5 separate regions of the Homo sapiens genome follow, and all the other regions are reported to be linked to region 2. The links are microRNA targets in miRTarBase. Many come from high-throughput screens and were not tested one by one. Region 2 holds a microRNA gene; each other region holds the end of a gene's coding sequence.
What was found. The annotated mature microRNA hsa-miR-4447 reads GGUGGGGGCUGUUGUUU and lies in region 2 at 1,310-1,326, shown strand. An mRNA with a match to its seed (bases 2 to 7 or 8) in the 3' UTR can be bound and repressed. Matches are read on the target gene's strand: a 7mer-m8 pairs with bases 2 to 8, a 7mer-A1 pairs with bases 2 to 7 and ends in A, and an 8mer does both.

Region 1 (4,117 bases), not on the chromosome of region 2:
GGAGGGGTCTCGCTCTGTGGCTCAGGCCTGTCTCGAACTCCTGAGGTTGCCCAGGCCTGTCTCGAACTCCTGAGCTCAAGCGATTCTCCTGCCTCGGCCTCCCAAAGTGCTGAGATTACAGGCGTGAACCACTGTGCCCGGCATGGTGGATGTCCTTGACTGTTTCCTTTGCTGACCTCCCTCCAGGGAGGGCAGGACTGTGTCTGACCTCAGGGGCATTTGCTGGGGTCTGGGGTGGTCCTCTGTGTTCAGCAGGTGGAGGCTTTGGGAGTCACAGGCCACTACCTCCTTTGCAGGGGACCGGCTTCGGCAGACAGAAAACCGCGCCACGCGCTGCAAGGTGGAACGGCTGCAGCTGCTTCTGCAGCAGAAACGGCTCCGTAGAAAGGCCCGGCGGGACGCGCGGGGTCCGTACCACTGGTCACCCAGCCGCAAGGCCGGCCGCAGCGACAGCAGTAGCAGCGGGGGCGGCGGCAGCCCCAGCGAGGCCTCCGGCTTGGGCCTCGACTTCGAGGACTCCGTGTGGAAGCCAGAAGTCAACCCTGACATCAAGTCAGAGTTCGTGGTGGCTTAGGATCTTCGGATCGGCCACCCTCGCCCCTCGCACCCCAGCCCAGGGCGGCGGGGACTCCGAGAGCCCCGGAGAGAACGTGGCCCAGCCCTGGAGGGCAGGCGGCCACTCCCCCAGCCAGAAGTCTTTTTTTCTTTTCTTCTTTTTTATTATTTTTTTCTTTTTTTAAAAAGTTCTGACCGTGGTTTCCTGGACTCTTCATGGGCTTTGCTTCCTACCTCCTTCACCCTTCACTCCTGCCCTCCTCTTCCTCCTCCTCCTCCTCCTCCGTCTGTCTCCTTTCACCTCTGCGCCAGGTCGGTCCTCCCTGCCAACCTTCCCCAGCTCCAATATGTAGCAGTCTCTCTGGATGGCGGAGAGTGAAGGAGACGGAGAAACGCGCCCCATCCCTTCCGCCGCCTCCTTTCCCCCCCGACCCTATTCAGGTTTTAAGTCAAAAATGTCGATATGTCATTATGCACTTTACAGATGAGGGGAGGGGCCGCAGTGCGCAGAACCCACCCCACCCCCCAGTGCAGACTTCGGGGTCTCCACCCCAGGCCAGCAGCGCCCACTGGGCTACAGCAAGCCAACAGGTCACAGAAGCCAACGAGGGGACTGTTTCTCTTCCACTCCTATCCTCTTTTCTTGATCTTTTTTTTGCATTTTCCTTCATTTCTTTAACAAGGAGAGCAAAGCTGTTTTAGCAGAGGCTGGGGCTGAGGTCCCCATGGGGTTTGGGTGCAGGGGCATGGCACCCTTTCCTGTCGGGAAGGGAGAGGGGAACTACCCCCCCAGCCTGCCCTCCGCCCCGCCCCAGCCGGCGGACTGTGCTGTTTCCTCCGCCCCCACTCCCGTGTTTTCTGACCTCCTGCCTGAGTTTGGGGTATTTATAGACTATTAATTTTCTGACTGAGCCAATAGTGGTTGGGGAACTCTTGAAAAAGGGGAGAGAATGGCTGGGTGCTGGGGAGTTCCCCCCTCCGAGCCCTCCTTCCCGGCCCAACCTGAGGGATGTGGATTTGGGACTGTCTGGGGGCCCCTCCTGCAGCGAGGATGGGAGGGGGTGCTGAGCTGTGAATCCCCTGGGCAGGGGGCGACAACTCCGTGTAGCATTAACCCCCGTGGCGGGGTCCGCTGCTGGTCTAATTTGGACCCCCTGCCTCTCAGTGCCCCTGCCCTAGGGGTGTCTGTCTCCAGAGGGGAGGGACAAATCCCCTACTGGGGCCATTTCAATGGGGTAGTTTTTGGATTTTTTTCCCCACTCACTTTTTATTTTTTAATGATAATGGAGATGTCTGGACCCTTCCTCACCCCACCTGTCGGTCTTGTCCTGGCTCTGCCTGTCCCCCACCGTTGTTCTCGTAGGTGAACCCCAGGTCCTCAACTCCCCCCCTTTATGTGTTGAAAGTTAATGGTTTCAGATGTGAACATCACGTGTTATAACTGTAGCGCTGTAAATTTTTTTGTGGGAGGGTGGGCAGGGAGGGGTCCCAGAGGGTAGAGCTCAAGGATTTTGGGTTTTGTTTTGTTTTCATTTTTCCAAAAAAAAAAGAAAAAAAAATAGAAAAAAAAGGAGTAAAAGGGGCGGGTTTGTTTTTTGAAGAACTGTCTTGGATACCTATTTAAATGTGTGTTCTGTTTTGTTTTTTAACGATTTTTAAATAACGTCTGTGCCTCCACTGGTTGAGGGTGGAACCTCCAGGCAGGAACCGGCTCGCCACCCTCTGCCCGGTAAGGGCTGCCCAAGAAAGCATTACCCGCCCTCGGGGGGTCGGGCTGTGGGGGTCCCGGCACCTGGCGTGAGTTTCATGTATGAAAACATAAAATTGAAAAAAAAAAAAAAACCTACACGAGCACCGTGATTTCAAGTAATAAACAGAAAATGAAACACACATTGACTCCCGCCTGCTCGCCTAGTGGGGGGATCTGGCCTTGGTTGGGAGGGTTCCTGGGGTGGGATGTCAGCTCAGGGAGTCAGAGGGACTGACCTGGGTCCCAAGGCCCCGAAGAGGGGGTGGGGCAGGGGTCAGGGCCCTGAGAATTTCCCACGCTCCTTCCCCGGCTGCCGGGTGGGCAGGAAGCAGCCAGGGTGGGAGGGAGGAGCCCAGCCACTTCCTGGTACCCAAGGCCGGAAGTCCCTTAGGGTGTGGGGCGAGGGCCTGCCTGCCTGCTTCGTGGCCTGGGCAGGACCCTGGCCCCCTCAGGACCTGCCAGTATGGGGGAGACGCGACCACCAGCTCTCCCCAGCCACAGGAGTCGGGGACTCCCACTCTGCCACACCCACCTGCTCCCCTTCCTGGAGTCTCACATCTGTGTGGCTTGCTGCAGGGAGATCACCAGGCCGACTGGGAGGACCTAGGACTCCGCAGGGTACCTTGGGCTGGCAGGTGATACAGGCCTGGCTTGACCCAGCCCTGGGGGGCCTCTCTGGCCACACCTCCTGACATTCCAGCCCTTCCCAGACCTGGCCTTCAGCTCCAAACCTCCCGGCCTTTGCCCCCTGTCTAGGAACACCCCTGGTCCGGCTGTCCCTTGCTGTCTGGGAACTTCCCCAGCCTGCGCCTTCCACCCCTGTCCACCCCGTCCCGCAGACCCCACCCTTCCCTCTCTCTGTCCCTAGCCTGGAGCTCCCCGTGAGCCTCACCAGGACTGAGTCCTCTCTGGGGTCCCACCTCCACCCATGTCCGGGCTGGGCAGAGATGAGGCAATAACACTATTTCATGTCTTTTTTTAAATTTTGTAACCTGTATTTCCTCAGGTAACAAGAGTTGCCTATGAGAAGTAATTGGGCTCCCATTTTATAGATGGGAGAACAGAGGCCCAAAGAGGAACATCACTTGGCCCAGAGGATTTGGGGTGTTTGTTCAATGATGTGACCTCCACCCCTTATCCCATCTCTAGGGGCCCCAGTACCGGGAGCCCCCAGGGGAAGGGGCACAGGTTCAGAGAGTGGCCTGGGAGCACCTTCCTGAGACCCCTCTGCCCCTCCCAACGCCCAGTCAACCCCAAATCATCGCACGCCCACGGCAGGAAGGCGGATGCCCAGTCAGGCGGCACCCACCCCCCGCCCCGTCCCTGGTGCGGATGTCCCCTCGGGGCTCAGGGTGGGGGTGCGGGTCACCGACGCCAGGCCTGGGGTCAAGGCGAGGGCCCCAGGGCGCCACCGCCCCCTCGCTGGGCGGGGTGGGAAGGAGGAAGGAGGATGTTGTCTGAAGCACCTGCTGAATCACAGGGGCTGTGTCTGTAGCCTGCAGGGTGGGGGGCGCGTCCCCTGCACTCCAGGACCCGCCCCTCGGGATGCCGACCCCCACCCCAGACTGGGGATCCCAGGGGTCAAGGCTGTGCCCTGGGGGCGTGGGGTGGGGTATGGAGCTCCAGGCTCAGAGCCCTGGCCTGGTAGGGTCAGCCCAACCAGGGGTGCAGCGGGCGGAGGGGCGGCAGGCGGAGGCCAAGTGTGCGTAGGGAAGCACGGAGAGGTAAACTGAGGCACAAAGAGGGCAGGGACCGCTGGGATCTCGCGGGGCGGGGTCGGCCCTGGATCGCTCCCTTCCCCCAACCATTGAG
Region 2 (4,117 bases):
ACAGTTATTCACAACCTCCCTTTTTCATTCATTTCTAACAAATTATTGAAGAAATTATAGAATGTCTGAAGTCAATTTGAAGTTAAATTATAACTTCTCTGTTGACTTGGTTAACATGGTATTTTTATTTTCTTTTTGTACTGATTTTCCTTTTGTGCCTGTCTATATTGCATACATATTTCTCTAATTACTTGTACAAAATACTTGGATGAAATTCTCTGTAGAATGAGATATAAATTAATATAAACAATATTTATGTAGGAAATAACAAGAAAAAAGTAGTAGCTACAAAAGTAGGCCCTGGTGAATATTTACGGCAGTTATTAAAAACCTCATGATTTTTTAGTTAATCTTCCTAAGAAATTTCATTTATATTATCTATGGTTATTTTGAGTTTCTCTCTCCTCTTTTTTTTCTTTTTTTTTTTTTTTTTTTGGTCTCTCTGTTTGGGTATTGTGTTAGTCTCTTCTCACACTTCTATAAAGACATACCTGAAACTGGGTAATTTATAAAGAAAAGAGGTTTAATTGGCTCATGGCTCTACAGGCTGTACAGACTTCTGCTTCTGGGGAGGCCTCAGGAAACTTACAATCATGGTGGAAGGCAAAGGGGAAGCAAGCACATCTTATGTGGCCAGCAGGAGGAAGAAGATAGTGGGGAGGTGCTACAGACGTTTTAACAAGCAGGTCTGGGGAGAACTCTATCAGAAGACACCTCTAGGGAAATAGTGCTAAGCCGTTAGAAACGGCCCCATGATCCAATCACCTCCTACTAGACCCCCTCCTCCAATACTGGAGATTACAATTTCACATGAGAATTGGGCAGGTACTCAAACTCAAACCATATCAGGGGTATAACTTTCATGTTATAAGCCTTCCTTAATATCTGCTAATCCTTTGCTATGCATTTATATTTAGGAACAAGTTATCACAATTCTACAATTCTGACTGGAGATGGCTTAGCATGGCAGGCTTCACTGTAGAGTGGTCAGCTGGAGAGAGACCTCCCTGCTATGGGCATCCACAGGTCTTTTCTTTTAAACAGTGATTTCCCTCAAAAAGGAAGCCTCAGATCTATTGCCTGGAATATATAAGGCAAATGATTGGGTTTCTCAGAGATACAACTAGGTGAATAAAGGGAAGGGGAAGACCTCATAATTCAAGATGCAGATCTCACAGTTCGGTGTGTAATATTCATTTTATTCATCTGATTTTAATATTTCATTCCCATCCTCAGCTTTTTCTGGTGTTCTAGAGCATGGTTTCTCATCATTTGCACTACTGATACTTGGGGTCAGATAATTGTTTGTGGTGGGGGCTGTTGTTTGCATTGTAGGATGTTAGAAGAATCCTTCTTGGACTTCTACCCACTAGATGCCAGAAACACCCCACCACAAGTTGGGACAACCAAAAATGTCTTCATGGCATATTGCCAAATATCCCTTGGGAAGCAAAATTGAACATGGTTGAGACCTACTGTTCTAAAGTAATCCCTGTTATTCAATCTCTCCAATGTTGAATAAGAGGCTTGTCCTCTTCTGGCATGTGTCTATTTGTGTATGAGGGAGACCAGAAGAGGAGTGCAGTTATCATACTATGCAGGAGTTGATGCAGGATTCTAACCACATACCAGCTTTCAACCAATCTTTACATCTTTATCACCATTGAATCTTTAGATGTATCTGTTGTCTATAAGTCCAGAAGCTTTCCTGAATTCTGTGGTGGAAATCAACTGGTTTCTTCGTTTCTATAATGAATAATTTTACTCTTCTTTTCTCTTTAAACTCAGTTAGGAATTGTCTGTCTGCTTCCAGCTTCCAAAATTTTCTTGATGCATCTTAACTGCAGTTATTTGGTCTCTTGTTTTTTCTGTGAACCAAAAAGTATCTGAGACAGGTCTCAATCAATTTAGAAAGTTTACTTTGCCAAGGTTAAGGACACGCCCATGACACAGCCTCAGGAGGTGCTGACATGTGCCCAAGGTGGTTGACGTACACCTTGCCTTTATACGTTTTAAGGAGACATAATACATCAAGCAATCTATGTGAGATTTACATTGGTTCAATCTGGAAGAGTGGAGACAGCTGGAAGTGGGGGTGAGGTAGAGATGGGGATTCCAAATCATAGCTGGATTCAAAGATATTCTGATTGGTAATTTGCTGAAAGAGCTATTATAAATAGAAAGGAATGGCTGGGCTAGAATAAGGGGTTGTGGAGACCAAGGTTTTATCATGCAGATGAAGCCTCTAAGTAGCAGGCTTCAGAGAGAAAAGAATGTAAATGTTTCTTATCACATTTAAAGTCTGTGTTGATGTTAATGCTGATTGGCTTTTCCTGAATTCCAAAAGGGAGGAGGATATAATGAGGCATGTCTGACCCCCTCTTCCATCATGGCCTGTATTAGTTTTTCACGTTAACTCTGGAATGCCCTTGACGAGAGGAGGGGTCCATTTAGATGATTGAGGAGACTTAGAATTTTATTTTTGGTTTATAGTTCTCTTTGTCTTTAGGCATTGAAGGATTTTTTTTTTTCTTTTAACTTCTTTACTCTAATTTTTGTAAATTTTCAGAAGGAAAAGTTATAAATGTGTGTTCTGTTTATCATGCTTCTGAGGGAATTTTGAATATTAAAAGCAAATCTTTAAAAAAGTGTTTAGCCTGTGTTTATTGCAGGCTACTTTGGATTATGTCCTCAGAATGTGGAAAGTACGTTTTATTTTTGCTAGAGCATTATTACTAGCTCAAGAACATCATGACTAGTACAAGTTCATTAGTGTGTGCACAAGCAAAGGTATAGCTTCTGAAGATGGGTCTGGCAACAACTTACATCTAAGTTTTGAGAATAACCAGCACACTGCTAAAGCCATCGTTAGTGCTCAATTTATTCGGCTTGATTGGTTAACTGATTCATTTGATCCTTACAATTACTCTGTGAAGCAGAACACACAAACATTGGAATCCATAGAAAGAGACACAGTGAGGTTGACTTGTTTAACATTACAAAGCTCATTTTCAGCACATCTAAGATTTGAAGCCTAGTTCATTTCTTTTTCAACTTTCCTATTCTTTGCAGAATTAGCACAATACAGGGAAGCTCCTACAGCAAATAGGAAACAAAGAGACCATTAGTTTTAAAAAGTCAAAGAAGGTAGTGCTATCATGGGCATGTACACCTGATACTCCAAAGGCTTATGCAGCAGTAGCCTGTAGATTCTTGGGTAATGATGAGCCATCAACTGTGTACAAGCCCTGTGAAGAGATAATAATAACAGCAACAGTGAACACTCGCTGATGGTTTTACTCTGTGCCTGGCTCTATTATAAATTCTTCATATGCTGTTTCTCACTGTATCATCACAACTCCTATAGATAAGGCTCTGAGTTGGAAGAGAGTGGCTGAAACTAGAATCTCTATCTTGAAGCAATGCATTCTTCTGAAAGTACAGCCTCACCCTTTTATGATAGAGAAAGTATTATTAAATGCTGAGGAATAGGAGAATCTCAAAGTCCCATGTTCTTGACTTCTCCTGTGGTGGTAAGTGTAGGGCTACTAATGTGAACTTGTATTTAAGGAATCAAATTCAAGCTTTTTGCTTATTAATTCAAGGTTCATTTATTTCACCTTAAATTTCTAGCTCAAGCCGAAATCTCATTTTACCTGCCAATTTGGCCACCTGGATAACCCTACTTTTTTCTCAAATAGAAATTCTGAAAATTGATTTTTTTTTTTACCTGTAGCAGTTAGCTTTTGCTGCATAACAAACCATTCCAAAACTTAGTAGCATAAAACTGAAATCATATTTTAGCTCTATATTTTGCCCGTTGGTAATTTAGCTTGGGTTTAATTGAGCAGTAATAATCAACTGGGCTCAACTGACCTCCCTCATGTAACTGAAGTCACCTGGCAAATAACTGATTGGTATAGAATGCCTTGCCTGGTGTGCTTGACTGAATAATATCCTTCTCCACCTCTGAAGATGTCAACAACCTAGTCCCTGGAACCTGTGAATATCTTATCTTATATTGCAAAAGGGATTTTGCAGATATAATTAAAGCAAAGGTGAAGAGATGGAAAGATTATCCTGGATTATCTAGGTGGGTCCAATAATGTAATCACAG
Region 3 (4,117 bases), not on the chromosome of region 2:
CTTTTATAAGCCTTTTGCTGGACGTATACACTCATTTTTCTTGGATATATGTTAGGTTGGACCACTAGAAGTTGCCTTTTTGTTGTTTTGGGAGACAGTCTTGTTACCTAGGCTGGAGTGCAAGGGTGCGATCTCGGCTCACCACCACCTCCACCTCCTGGGTTCAAGCGATTCTCCTGCCTCAGCCTCCCGAGTAGCTGGGATTACAGGCATGCGCCAACACGCCTAGCTAATTTTGTATTTTTAATAGAGATGGGGTTTCTCCACGTTGGTCAGGCTGGTCTCGAACTTCTGACCCCAGGTGATCTGCCCGCCTTGGCCTCCCACAGTACTGGGATTACAGGCGTGAGTCAGTGTGCCCAGCCTAGAAGTTACCATTTTGTTGGTCCAAAATAGTTATTAGTGGTTTCATATAATTCATCCTGTACCTAGAAGTAGAATTGCTGGATCAAAGGGTAGTTGTATGTTCAGCTTTAGAAGATAGGTATTTATAAACATTTTTTTGGTGTGCCCTGCCAGCTGTGTGTGAGAGTTCCATTTTCCCCACATTTTCACCAAATACTTGGTATTGTCAGTCTTTTAAATTTAAGCCATTCTGGCTGTACAGAGCTCATTTATGTACTAATGTTTACATTTTACCTCACAGAAAATAGATGCACAAGCTATTGAAGAATTCTACGGGTTGACATCAGATATCTCAAAGAACTCTGAGTCTGGTTACATCCTTTTCTATCAGTCTCGGGACTGAGAGGGAACCGTGATGAAGAGACACTTTCTGCCTCATTTCTTCTCTGGTTATTTTGGAAAGGATCAAGCACTGATTTTTCAAGAAAAGAGAAATGCAGGAAGCTCAGGGGGCAGTAGCACACTTTGCACACGATAAAGCAAAGACGATGGATTGACAAGCCCTTCCGATCATGGTAGTTGATTTATTTGCTCAGGTATCATGCTGTCTGTACAGTTCCATACAACAAGGAGGTGAAATCAGAGATACCAGCTCCTCTTTTAAAACAGCCTTCCAGTCATTGGCACGCATTTTCTCTTTATTAATTGCACCAATAATGCTTTGAATTCCTTGGGGGTGCAGTAGAAAGAATCGGAATCTGTGCCGTATTGATAAGGAGATGATGTTGAACACACTGCATAAATTTGCCTGGTTCAGTATGTATAGAAGCATATTCAGTGGTCTTTTCAAGAGTAAACCAGAAATACTTTTGGGCCCAACACTTGCAGTTGCCTTCCTGATGTAAAAACTAACATGCTAGATAATCCAGTGTCGGGAAGACAAAGATGTTTTGCTTCTCTGAAGAAGCTTATAATAATATACAGTATATGTATATGTAGGGAGCAATTGGTCAAAAGTGGCTTTTTGTTTCCCCAAGGGGAAAGACTGGCTTTGTAATTATAATTTTTTCCTTATTTATTTTACTTAAAACTGGTAGAGTCTAAGTATTATATGAAGTGCCCATGATTCTGTCAGTAAATTTGAACATATTTTTATTAGTTAATGTCAGTTTAAGTTGTCCTTTTGTTTGTTTCTATTTTTAAGGTGAATTTTAATTTCTATCTGAAATCAGTTAAGATACCTTGAGAAAAACTGCAGTGAGAGGAGATAAATATCCTTTTTCAGGAGGAACTGATATCTCTGGCTAAATATTTGTCCTTTTATTATGGTTTCTAAATCAGTTATTTTCTTCAGCTTTAATTTCATAAAATTAAAAAACTATTTTAAAAATTCCTGTAGTTGTTGGAATAATTAAAAATTCTGGTGCAGTGGTGGTATACCAATCTTTAGAATTCTTAAGTATTCTAATGTTTCAAGTTGAGATCATGCTTGGGAAAATCATGTCATAGCATTTATGTTATTTTCAGATGCCATTTTTTACCCTGGAAAGAAGTCATAATGTTCATCATAACCCTAGCAGCCTGGATAGTGAGCTAAACAAACCCTTCAAAGATTAAATTTTAATCAAGTAGACCGGGAATACAAAAGACAAGTCCTTCCTTCCCTTCCCCCCACCTTTACAAATCTTACTGGAAGGGTGTTCAGAAATTAAAATCTGTGTTTGCTAAGACTTCATTCTGTTGGGGGTTTTAAGAAGTAATATATGTAACATAAAATATATGTAAACGATTGCAGTTTTTTTGGACGTTTTTCCATGCATCAGTAAGTTGTCTGACAGTAGCCAAATGTAACTTGCAGAAAATTATTGAAAATTATATTCAGAATAATAGCAATCAGGCCTTGGATGTTCTTTATTAAACTCTTTTCAGGCAGTAAATTTAAAAAAAATTGTCATTTTCTAAAGTCCTTTTGCTAAAACTGTTGACTATGGAAAACAACAAAAAGGAATTTTTTAGTCTGCTGCTATTATTAACATTTATTATCTGTATCTTTTGGCTCAGGAAATGACTTCACCTATTTTTTCCATAAGCAGACCTTTAACAGAGTCACTTAATTGGGCTGCTTAAACAGATGTTCTGGGAGAAAATTATAATATTTAGTATTTGTACAAAATATCAAAAAGTATTTTGACAAGTTTCTTTTTAAGATAGTTCCTAAAGCCTTACCCTGGCTAGAGGTGTTTTGTACAAATTATATATAAGCCAGCCTGATCTACCAACATGCCACAGAGAATCACAATCAACAGTGTGGGGAAAGTCAGGGCAGTGGAAGTGGATGCACTCTTTTTATTTTGAAGGCTTAAACCAAATTGTCTTGGAATTAAAGCTGTATTTCTGCAGCTTTCGGTACAGAGAAAAAGAGGAAAGTGAAGCTGTGTCAGTTTTAACATTAGCTATATCAACATGTTTAAGAAAGATAGATGAAGTCATTTGCATAAAGGTACAGCATTGAAATACTATGTTGTGTTTGTTTTTACATTTTTGCATTAAAAAAAAACATGCCGTAAAAGCCAAGTTAAATTTCATATTAAAGCAAGTTCTAGTGTATGTGTTGAGTTCCTGGTAATCACATACTTGTTCACATCTACACCGTACTTCATAGTATGATTTGTCAGGGGAGGGATTGTGGGGTGACAGTTTTACATTTACTTTTTCTTCTTAATGCAGCTGGATCTAAGTAAAATGTTTTGAAGTTTATCAGAAACTAAATGTACTTTTAAAACGTATAGGGTCAGGGTTGGGGGAAAAATACAGGTATAGTAAGTAAGAAAAGTGACCCATGAAGAAAGCATCGTGAGGTTGTATGTTGGTTGACTGTGATTAAAATGCGGGGCTGGTGTAAGTTGTAAGTGGTGGCTGATTGCCGTGTAACTATGTACATGATTGTTGGGATGGCTGTCCCATATTTTGTATATTGGAATAAAAATTTCTATAAATTATTGTAACTAAAAGTAAATATTCTAAATTAAGTCCCACTTCTTAAGTCACATGGCTTCTGTCTTGGAAATTTTACCTTTAAAAGATTATTTAAGACAGGAACCAGGAGGCTTGGGAACAGGGAAAGAGGGAAATGTTGTATTATGTGGGTCTTGGGGCCTCTAACCATCAGTATAGGGTTTTTTCTTTCCTTGATGGCAGTAGAAAGACCTCATTTTCATAACATAACTACTCTTGATACTTTCTTTAAAAACACTTTTTATTAAAGATTCTATCATGAGGTATTTGGCTGGGAGCTGGGAGGCTAAAGCGCTCATGTCCTGGCTCTTCAGTGAATTTAACTGTGTGACCTTGGGCAAGTCACTTAACCTCTCTGTGCTTCAGTCTCCCTGTCTTGTAAAATGGGAGTAATACCTACCTCACAGGGTTGTTGTGGGGATTAATTAGAGATAATGTCTGTAAAGCATTTAAGGTTCTTGAAGAAGGCACTATATAAATACAAAATAATATCTATTAAAGTTGGTTTATTTGTGCCTGTGGGTTTCAAGTGTGTTTTTTCCTTTTTGCCTAAAATGTATTTACAGATTAGAAGTAGACACTTTGGAAACTGTGTTACTGCTTTTGCCCAAGCTCCTACTTCTGTATCCAAAGAGATTTTCCCTAGAACAGAATTGCATGTGTGTAAAACAACATTCTACATGTGCCTGCATTTATTTAGCACATAGTAGCTTGTGTCACCTTTCTGTGATAGCATGTCTGAAAAGTTCAAAGTTTA
Region 4 (4,112 bases), not on the chromosome of region 2:
AGGGTCCTCAAGGGAAAAGTAGAGAATCATGACCCTTTCCCAGTATTTTTTTCACAAAGACCACATGATTTCTGGAGTGTCTCCTCTTCTACTGAAATAAACGTTCTCTTCTGAGAGGCAAAGAATCATAGAATGAACACTAGATTAAGAATGTGAATTTAAATGAAATAATCCATGTAATGTGCTTAAAATAGTAAGCAGTCAAGAAAAATTAAGTTTACAAAATAAGCATCTGAATGTTAGTTCAAAATCCACCATTTATTCACTGTGAGACCTTGGATACTTTATTTAACTGCTGTGAATCTATTATCTGGAAAACAGAAATAACCAAGGCCATATTACTCTCTACATAGTACAACTACTCGTGGAATTGTGATGAGATCAAAATTTTAAAATGAGATAATGAATTAAAGCAAATAACAGTATTATATGGTCACTCATTATCATTTTAGATATTGTGATTTTTCCCATAGAACTTTTATGCTAGGATACTTTTAAGAATTCTTATACATATAAAAGCTTTCAGTTTGTGATGAATATTTTGTGACCTCCTGTTAAGGACTGAACGTTTTCATCTCTGAAAAATTCCAGTGTTGAAATCCTCGCCCCCAAAGTGATTATATTGGGAGGTGGGGCCTTTGGGAGGTGATTAAATCATGAAGGTGGAGGCTGCATGCATGGGATTGACACCCTTACAAGAGGGACCCTTCAGAGCTCTCTCGCCCTCTATCCTCCGTGTGAGGTTATAAGGATAGCTGGCAACCCAAAAGGGAGCCCTCATCAGAACCCGGCCCCGCTTCCAGCCTGGTCCAGCACCCGAACTGACTTCCAGCCTCCAGAACTATGATACATTTCTGATGTTTACAAGCCACCCCCCAGACTATGGTACTTTATTATAGCAGTCCAAACTAAGACACGTTCCAAGACTTTCACATCATAGGTATTTCTTCCTATTTTTATATTTGGCTCTGTTCTTCAGACAATGTCAGATGTAAATAGGCAAAACTATAATTTGACATAAGCTTTTAGTGGTAAAAGTGTTTAAGTTTAAATATGTATATATTTACTATCTGGCCTTTTATATAAAAAACTTGACCCGAGGTAGATTATTGAAACTTCCACAATAAAATGACTTCTTCAAAACTTTTCTTCCATATTTATGTAATACTTCACTTACTTGACTACTTTCCCCACATTTAAATATATACATATTTAAACTTCATGAAATATATTTACATTTCATGAGTATAAATTGCATGTATCTCATGTACATCCCAATTATCTTTGCTACGACATACATATAACAAAGATAACTAGGATGTACATGAAAAGATTATCAAGGTACTCACCAAAAATCTTTATAGTTACTATTCTGGATGGTAGAATAAAGAATGTTTTATATTTTTTTCTTTTGGAATTTGAATTTTATATTGACTATGTATCATTCTTACAAACAAAAAATTTAAAGCTATTTTCACCTTGAAAAATAAAAAAACACTAGAAAATTTTGTCAGCAAATCTTTCAAAAATTCACAAGGAAAAAACTTATCACCTGAGGGTACGAAAAAATGTGGAAGAATTTCATTAGGCAGTAGAGGACTTATTGATGACAATTTCAAATTTGATAAGTCTAGGGGAAAACAACCAAACAAACATGCAAAGCTGACCAATAAAGTCAGCAGTGCTATTCCTTTCCTTCCTTATGTTTCTAAACAAACCATAAAATATACAACAGATGTACTACTCACTGGCCATTGTCCTGTAGCATACAAACATGACATTATTTTTTCTTCCACATAATTCATTTATTTGATAAGCACTTAGGAACACCCACTATGCTCACGTACTGTTGTAGGGGCTGAGGCAAAATGGTGACTAAGACTGAGAGTATCTGCTCTCACAATGCTTAATAATCTAGTGGGGAAAGGAGCCAATAAGTAAAGCATTACATAAATATAGCAGAAAACTTTAGAAGAAGTTATTTTATTCTATAAGTTTCAATAATGTACTTTAGGTGTCAAATTTTTTATGTAGAAGGCCAGACAGTAAATATTTTAAGCTTTGTGGGCCACACAGCCTTTGTGCAACTATTCATCTCTGCCACTCTAATGTGAAAACCGCCACAGCCAGCCCATATACAATTAGAGTGTGACTGTGTTCTAATAAAATTTTATCTATGAAAACAGGGGTGAGATAGATCTGACTCACTGGCCATAGTTTGGCACCCCAGATCTATTTTAAAAGCTAACAATAACCACAAAATAAAATCCTAAAAGTTTTTCAAAGCATAATTGAAAGCATGTAGACCTAGCAGTAGAACTAGTTCAGTTGGTGTTTTCCTGTGTTCTGAAGCCACTGAATTGCTTATACCAAAATCACTTTTATTTCAAATTTTCTATGACTTTGGAAAAAGATCCTAAGAAATAACTAATAACTTAGGACAAAGAGTACACCTTTAAAGCTGCTTCTGTATTTAAAGACTCTGTGGACTTAAAATCATATCTGAATTCTCTTCATGGTTCTGTCAATAATTTGATGCAAAATAATGATGAAAAAATTTAAGTTTGGTTTCTGGATCTTTAAAAACTTTTAGAAGGGTACTACCAACTAACTCCATAGCAGCCAACATGAATAAGTTTTCACTGGAACCCACTGAGGATCTCAGGGCTCTAGTGAATATTCTCTGGTAAACAGAATGTGGCTAGCCTTCTCTTCAAACTAAAGAGATTTTTTTTTTCTTTTTTTGAGATGGAGTATCACTCTGTCACCCAGGCTGCAGTGCAGTGGCGTGATCTCGGCTCACTGCAACCTCTGCCTCCTGGGATCAAGGGATTCAGTCTCAGGAGTTGCTAAGACTACAGGCGCACACCACCACGCCCAACTAATTTTTTGTATTTTTAGTAGAGATGGGGTTTCACCACGTTGGCCAGGCTGGTCTGGAACTCCTAGCCTCAAGTGATCCTCCCATCTCTGCCTCCCAAAGTGCTGGAATTACAGGTGTAAGCCACCGTGCCCAGCCCTAAAGAGATCTTTTAATTTCAAAAGAAAAACATGTTTGTTGGAAGAAATAAACTAAACAAAACTGTAAAAAGTAAAAGCCCCTCTCCTAGTTGTTGAGTTTATCAGTTTACTTAAAAAATGGCTGTCGCTTATGCCTGTAATCCCAGCACTTTGTGGGGCTAAGGCGGGAGGACTGCTTGAGACCAGCAGTTTGGGACCATCCTGGGCAACATAGCAAGACCCGTCTCTCCAAAAAAAAAAAAAAAAAAAAAAAAATTGCCAGGTGTGATGGTGCACATCTGTAGTCCCGGCTACAAGGGAGGCTAAGGCAGGAAGACTGCTTGAGCCCAGCAGTTCGAGGCTGCTGTGAGATATGATCCCACCACTGCACTTGAGCCTCGGTGGCAGTGCAAAATCCTGTCTCTAAAAACAAAAACCAACAAAAAAAGGCATCTTACTTTCTATGTGGTCCTGAAATTTTTTTCAATTAATGTCAATGACTTTTAATTGTTCTCTTGGTTATCTAACAAGAATCAATAGAAGACTTTTACAAATTAAATGTTATAGAAAATTCTTTAACCAACTCAGTTTAATTCTAAACAGCTTCATGATAAAAAAAAAAAAAAACTTCCTTATATTTCCCAGTAATAAGAGGTTACTGTACGTCAAAAACAAAGGGTTGCAACACTTACTGATATATTGTAGTTTAATAAAACATAGTTTATACAGTTCATTGAAAAAGTATTTTAATACAAACACCACTTATACACAAAACCAAATGTTGATATTCTTGTTTTTAAAAATTCTTGATTTCTCTAAAACACTAAGATGCTATCTCAATAGAGATTGCTTCACATTTTCCAGTTTCTTGATCTGTGCATGTCACATGTAAAGATCCATCCCTAAACAGACAAAAAAATAAAGAACATTGCACAAGCTCATTTTATAAAAACATAAAGTCTGTAACAAGTTACTTGAGGGCTTTCAGTAAACAAGGGTTAATTTTAATTTTCAAAAGAAGGGTATTAATGTAAAGAATAAACACAATCTCAGTGTCTCTAAATTTAGTAAGTGTCATATGTTATATTTAGCTAGTTGTTATTAGGAACTTC
Region 5 (4,106 bases), not on the chromosome of region 2:
AATTTTCCTGTACATGGGAGTCACCTCCCTTAACGGGATCCAGTTCTATGAGCGGCTGCATCTGCTGCTCATGCCGCCCAAACACCACCCAGATGTCACTTACGTCAAGAAGGTGAGCCCCCCAGCTCCCCACCGGAAGGGGTGTGCCTCTGGCCATCCTGGTCTACTTGGGTCACTCTCCAGCTGCCCCCTCCCATCTGCCCAGTTCAGCCAGCCCCCACCTCCTCTCTGTACCAACCCAGCTCTGGCACCTAGGAATGTTCTTCCATCCCCGCCTCCGAAGAAGAGAGAGGCTCTTCCCAGCAGCAGGCTAGGGAGGAAGCTGGGCTCACCTGTCTCCGCCCCCCAGGTCCGGACCCTCCGTATGCACCTGTTCACGGCCCTGCAGCTGCTCTGCCTGGCCCTGCTCTGGGCCGTCATGTCCACAGCTGCCTCCCTGGCCTTCCCCTTCATCCTCATCCTCACAGTGCCGCTCCGCATGGTGGTGCTCACCCGTATCTTCACCGACCGAGAGATGAAATGTGTAAGCCCTCCCGTCTGCCTCCCCCGGTTCCTCTTGCCTCCCTGTGGATCTGGAAAGGCCCCCCCACTTCCCTTCTTGACCGCCACCTCCCCACACACAGCTGGATGCTAACGAGGCAGAGCCGGTGTTTGATGAGCGGGAGGGTGTGGACGAGTACAATGAGATGCCCATGCCTGTGTAGCCGCCACCGAGGGACAGCCGAGGGACCGATGGACGAGGGGACAGGCTGGTGGGATGGGGTTCCCCCTCCCATGCCCCTCCCTCCTTTTTATTTAAGTGAATAATTTAAAGTCTTCTCCTCCCCCACTGCCCCTGCAGTAAAGTGCTTTGGCCCCCACCTATCTGTGGCCTTTTGTCTTTGTATGGGGGGCGGGGCATGAATGGAAGAGGCGGGGGACTCAGCTCTGCTCCCCGTCCCAAAACTGAGATTCACAACGGGGAAGGAAAGGAACTTTAATGAGAAATCAAAACACAGGGAACCAAAGTGCAAATCATCCACCCCCCATGGGGGGGCCATCCTGAACCCCACATCAACCCCTCAGCCCCCTTCAGGCCCCCAGCGCAGGCCCAGGGCCTGGAGCTTCTGCCTCAGGTAGCTCTTGAGCTGGGGCAGGCCTCTCTGGGACTCCAGTTCCTCGAAGGGTAGCTGTGGGGAGAGGAGAGGGCGGCAGGTTACCCGCAGGCTGGGAGTGAGGATGCGCCACGGGCCAGGCCAGGGCCACTCACCGGCAGGAGCTGGTAGCCCATCAGGCCTAGGTGCCGCTCCCTCAGGGCCCTCGAGCCCAGCAGCACCCGGCCGTCCCGGCAGAAATGCCAGCGTTCCCGCAACACCAGCACCACCCTGCAGGGGGAGGGACGTGGCTCAGGGCATGGCGGGCAAGGTGGCCAGGGCTCCCCCACCCTGCCTCCTTTACCTCTGGGCAGGGTCTCGAGTAGTGGCGCTAGAGGCAGCCTGGCCCTGTGGGCAGGACCTTGGTGGGTATGGCAGGAAGGGGTCCTGGGTCCTCACGGGAAGCACAGCACCAGAGCTGCTGGCGCACAGCAGGAAGTCTGGAGGGGAGCAGGGCCGGCGGCCTTAGCCAGGGCTCCGTCTCCCCGGGCCTGCCGCCTGCCCCTTGCTCACCTGTGCAGTAGCCTGGAGGCACAGTCAGGTCCTGGCGGTATTTCTCCTCCCCCAGCAGCTGGCGCAACCCCTCAGCTACTATGTCCTTGTGACTGAGGAGAAAGGACACCAGTAGCAGGAAGGGCCCGGCACCTCATCCTAATCTGTCCCAGTCTAGTGCCACCACCCTGGGCAAAGCCCTCTGCTGCTTCAGGGCCCAGTTTTATGGTGGCCGAGAGCTCCTTAGCTTTGGCGCTTCATGGTCCCTCTGGCTTTTCCACTCTGCTGGTCCCAGGCTGGCCCCTCCCCTTGCCCCAGGCTGCCCCATCCACCTGTACTTGCAGCGGGCACGGTCGGTGATGAGAGGCTGGGGAAAGATGGGCACTTGCTGCCTTCGGGGAAGGCGGGGACCCCGGTATCCTGGGAGCTCCAGCTCCACGGCCGTGTCCAGCAGGGAGAGGTAGCGACGCACAATCAGAGCATGAGGGGTGCCTGTGGGGAGGCGGGGACTGGGGCTCTGGGCTGCAGGCCACCCTGCTCCCCTGCCTCTCCAGCCCTCAGGGGCCCAGCCAGCCATCCTGGCTGCGTACCACTGATGTAGTTGATGAAGCCAGGGGAAAAAACAAAGTGCAGGGCTCTGAAGGGCAGGCACCGCAGTTGGCACAGTGACATCAAGATGTTGACTGTAGCCAGGGGTGCCACCCCTGCTTCCCGAGCCAGGATCCTCTCAAGGCAGGGCATAAACTGCTGTTCCAGGGGCAGGTAGTTCAGTCGCCCAAAGGGCAGGACCAACTTCTGTACCACCTGTGGAGGAAGAGCAGTTCATTACCCAGTGTCAAGTATTTCTGCAGTCATCTTTTACAAGCTAAGCCTTAGAGAGGCTTAGCCCTCAGGTTTACAACACTGCTGTAAAGACAGGACAGTCCCTCCGGCCTCACAGTTCAACAGCAAAGCAGTCACGAGCTGCACGTGACTAATCACCAGACAGGCAGAGGGGACATCGCTGTGGGGTCTGGCCCTGAAGACTTCGAGAGGGATGGGTGGAGCTAGGATGCTGCTAAGAGTGCTTTGGGAAACTGCAGATTTCCAGGAATGCATGCTGCTGACAGGAGGTGGGCAAGCCACAGAAAGGGTGTAGAAAAGATGCAGGTCCCAGGGGACAGAGAGGGTGTGTCTGCTTCAGGAAAAGGATAGCCGAGCTGCACGAGGCGCTGGGCCTGACAAGGTCCCTGAGAATGACAGAGATGCACTGGAGGGTGGGTGGCAAGCCCACCTTGCTGCTGAGTTGCGTTTCCTGAACCACCAGGAAGTGGGCAATGGCTTCCAGAAGCTGGGGCTCCCGCAACCGGTGCCGGGCCAGGTGCTGGGCCAGGAGCACCATCACGTGGGGAGTCAGTTCCTCTGGCCTTGCCTCTGTGAAGAGCAGCCTGTCACGCTGGGCCTCAGCCGGACCTCCGGCTGGCTCAATTCCACCTCAGCCCAGCCAACTGAGCCCACCTTCCTCCTCCTGTCAGCCCTCCCCACCCCCATCTGATTTTAACCCCCTCCAGCACCTGCCAGGCTGCTGATCAGATGCTGCCGTGGATACCGCAGAAAACGGGGGCAGCTTAGAGCAGCTTCCAACCCTTGCCCACCTCGGAGAAGGGGCTGCAAAGGGGGAGGTGGCTTCGGAGGGAGGCGGAGCCTTCGCTCCTGTTCCAGGGCACACACCAGGGGACCATCAGATGGAAAGCCTGAGGGGGAGAGGTAAAAGGCAGCCTGGTAACAGAGCTGTGCTGCTGTTCTTATCATGGGGTTACTTGGTGAATTCTCCACCTTTCTCCTCTCCCGTTTCCTGAGCGGGAAGGTGTGCTAGAGTTTAAGTGCAAACACTAGAGACATGTAAAGTATCATGTGGCTATGAGGTATCGAAACGGTTTGTAGGGAGTACATACAAAGATGGCAAATAGGCTTTCATCTCATACCAATTGTGACAAATTATGGTGGCTTCCTAGGGCACTCTATTAGCAGGAATCTGGGGTGGCACCCTAGCGAGGCCGGAAGGAGTGCGTTCGACTCATGATGTCTGCCGCAGACATAGGACGGGAGCAGGAGCAAGCGTTCCTGGGCAAACGCCTGAGAGGCTGGGTCTCTGTCCGTGGTCCTCTACTGTTCTCCCTATTCTTCATTAACACCTAGCCCCCCAGGCGCCCACCTCAAGCCCCTCCTCACCAAGTAAGACTGCAAGGTGCAGACACACGTGGATGGTGTGAATGTCAAAGGAGGGGCAGTTTCGGATGATGAGCTGACTCAAGTCCTGCAGTGTGACCTGCTCCACAGGAGGGGGCCGTGGCCGAGACCCCAAGAGCTGGCCCAGACGACGAAGCGCCACCGAGTAGTGGTGGGCGCGCACCTTGCTGGGGTTCTGGCCCAGCCAGCGCAGCAGCTCCCCAGGGCTCTTCGCCTGTTCCAGAAGCCGCTGCAGTCCTTGCACAGGACCTG

Region 1: miRTarBase lists MIDN as a target of hsa-miR-4447. Seed matches in the 3' UTR shown: 7mer-m8 at 1,396-1,402 and 7mer-m8 at 1,898-1,904.
Region 3: the mRNA of USP12 is a reported target of hsa-miR-4447. Seed matches in the 3' UTR shown: 7mer-m8 at 2,014-2,020.
Region 4: miRTarBase lists HSPA14 as a target of hsa-miR-4447. The part of its 3' UTR that is shown has no 7-base or 8-base seed match.
Region 5: miRTarBase lists SLC4A2 as a target of hsa-miR-4447. Seed matches in the 3' UTR shown: 7mer-m8 at 824-830.

Annotation. Positions count from the first base shown.
Region 1 is chr19:1,256,699-1,260,815 of GRCh38, forward strand. It overlaps MIDN (midnolin), which reads left to right. Exons shown (of 9, transcript NM_001388306.1): 9 at 297-2,445. The coding sequence ends at 574. Among named protein-coding and RNA genes, the nearest start is that of MIDN, 10 kb to the left of the region's middle. RefSeq lists enhancers at 2,293-2,442, 2,863-3,022 and a silencer at 3,463-4,117.
Region 2 is chr3:116,847,498-116,851,614 of GRCh38, reverse strand. MIR4447 (microRNA 4447) reads left to right here and starts at 1,248; the gene lies at 1,248-1,338. RefSeq lists enhancers at 1,556-2,191, 2,192-2,826.
Region 3 is chr13:27,065,914-27,070,030 of GRCh38, reverse strand. It overlaps USP12 (ubiquitin specific peptidase 12), which reads left to right. Exons shown (of 9, transcript NM_182488.4): 9 at 647-3,875. The coding sequence ends at 748. Among named protein-coding and RNA genes, the nearest start is that of USP12-AS1, 58 kb to the left of the region's middle.
Region 4 is chr10:14,871,318-14,875,429 of GRCh38, reverse strand. HSPA14 (heat shock protein family A (Hsp70) member 14) reads right to left here. Exons shown (of 14, transcript NM_016299.4): 14 at 3,689-3,902. The coding sequence ends at 3,824. It also overlaps a transcript of SUV39H2-DT not described here. Among named protein-coding and RNA genes, the nearest start is that of SUV39H2-DT, 5.3 kb to the left of the region's middle.
Region 5 is chr7:151,075,664-151,079,769 of GRCh38, forward strand. It overlaps SLC4A2 (solute carrier family 4 member 2), which reads left to right. Exons shown (of 23, transcript NM_003040.4): 21 at 1-112; 22 at 350-523; 23 at 624-860. The coding sequence ends at 704. It overlaps FASTK (Fas activated serine/threonine kinase), which reads right to left. Exons shown (of 10, transcript NM_006712.5): 2 at 3,837-4,106; 3 at 3,179-3,358; 4 at 2,899-3,038; 5 at 2,216-2,429; 6 at 1,958-2,117; 7 at 1,647-1,738; 8 at 1,438-1,573; 9 at 1,250-1,364; 10 at 961-1,169. The coding sequence ends at 1,062. Among named protein-coding and RNA genes, the nearest start is that of FASTK, 3.1 kb to the right of the region's middle. RefSeq lists enhancers at 1-560, 561-1,536, 1,537-2,512, 3,489-4,106 and a silencer at 1,339-1,418.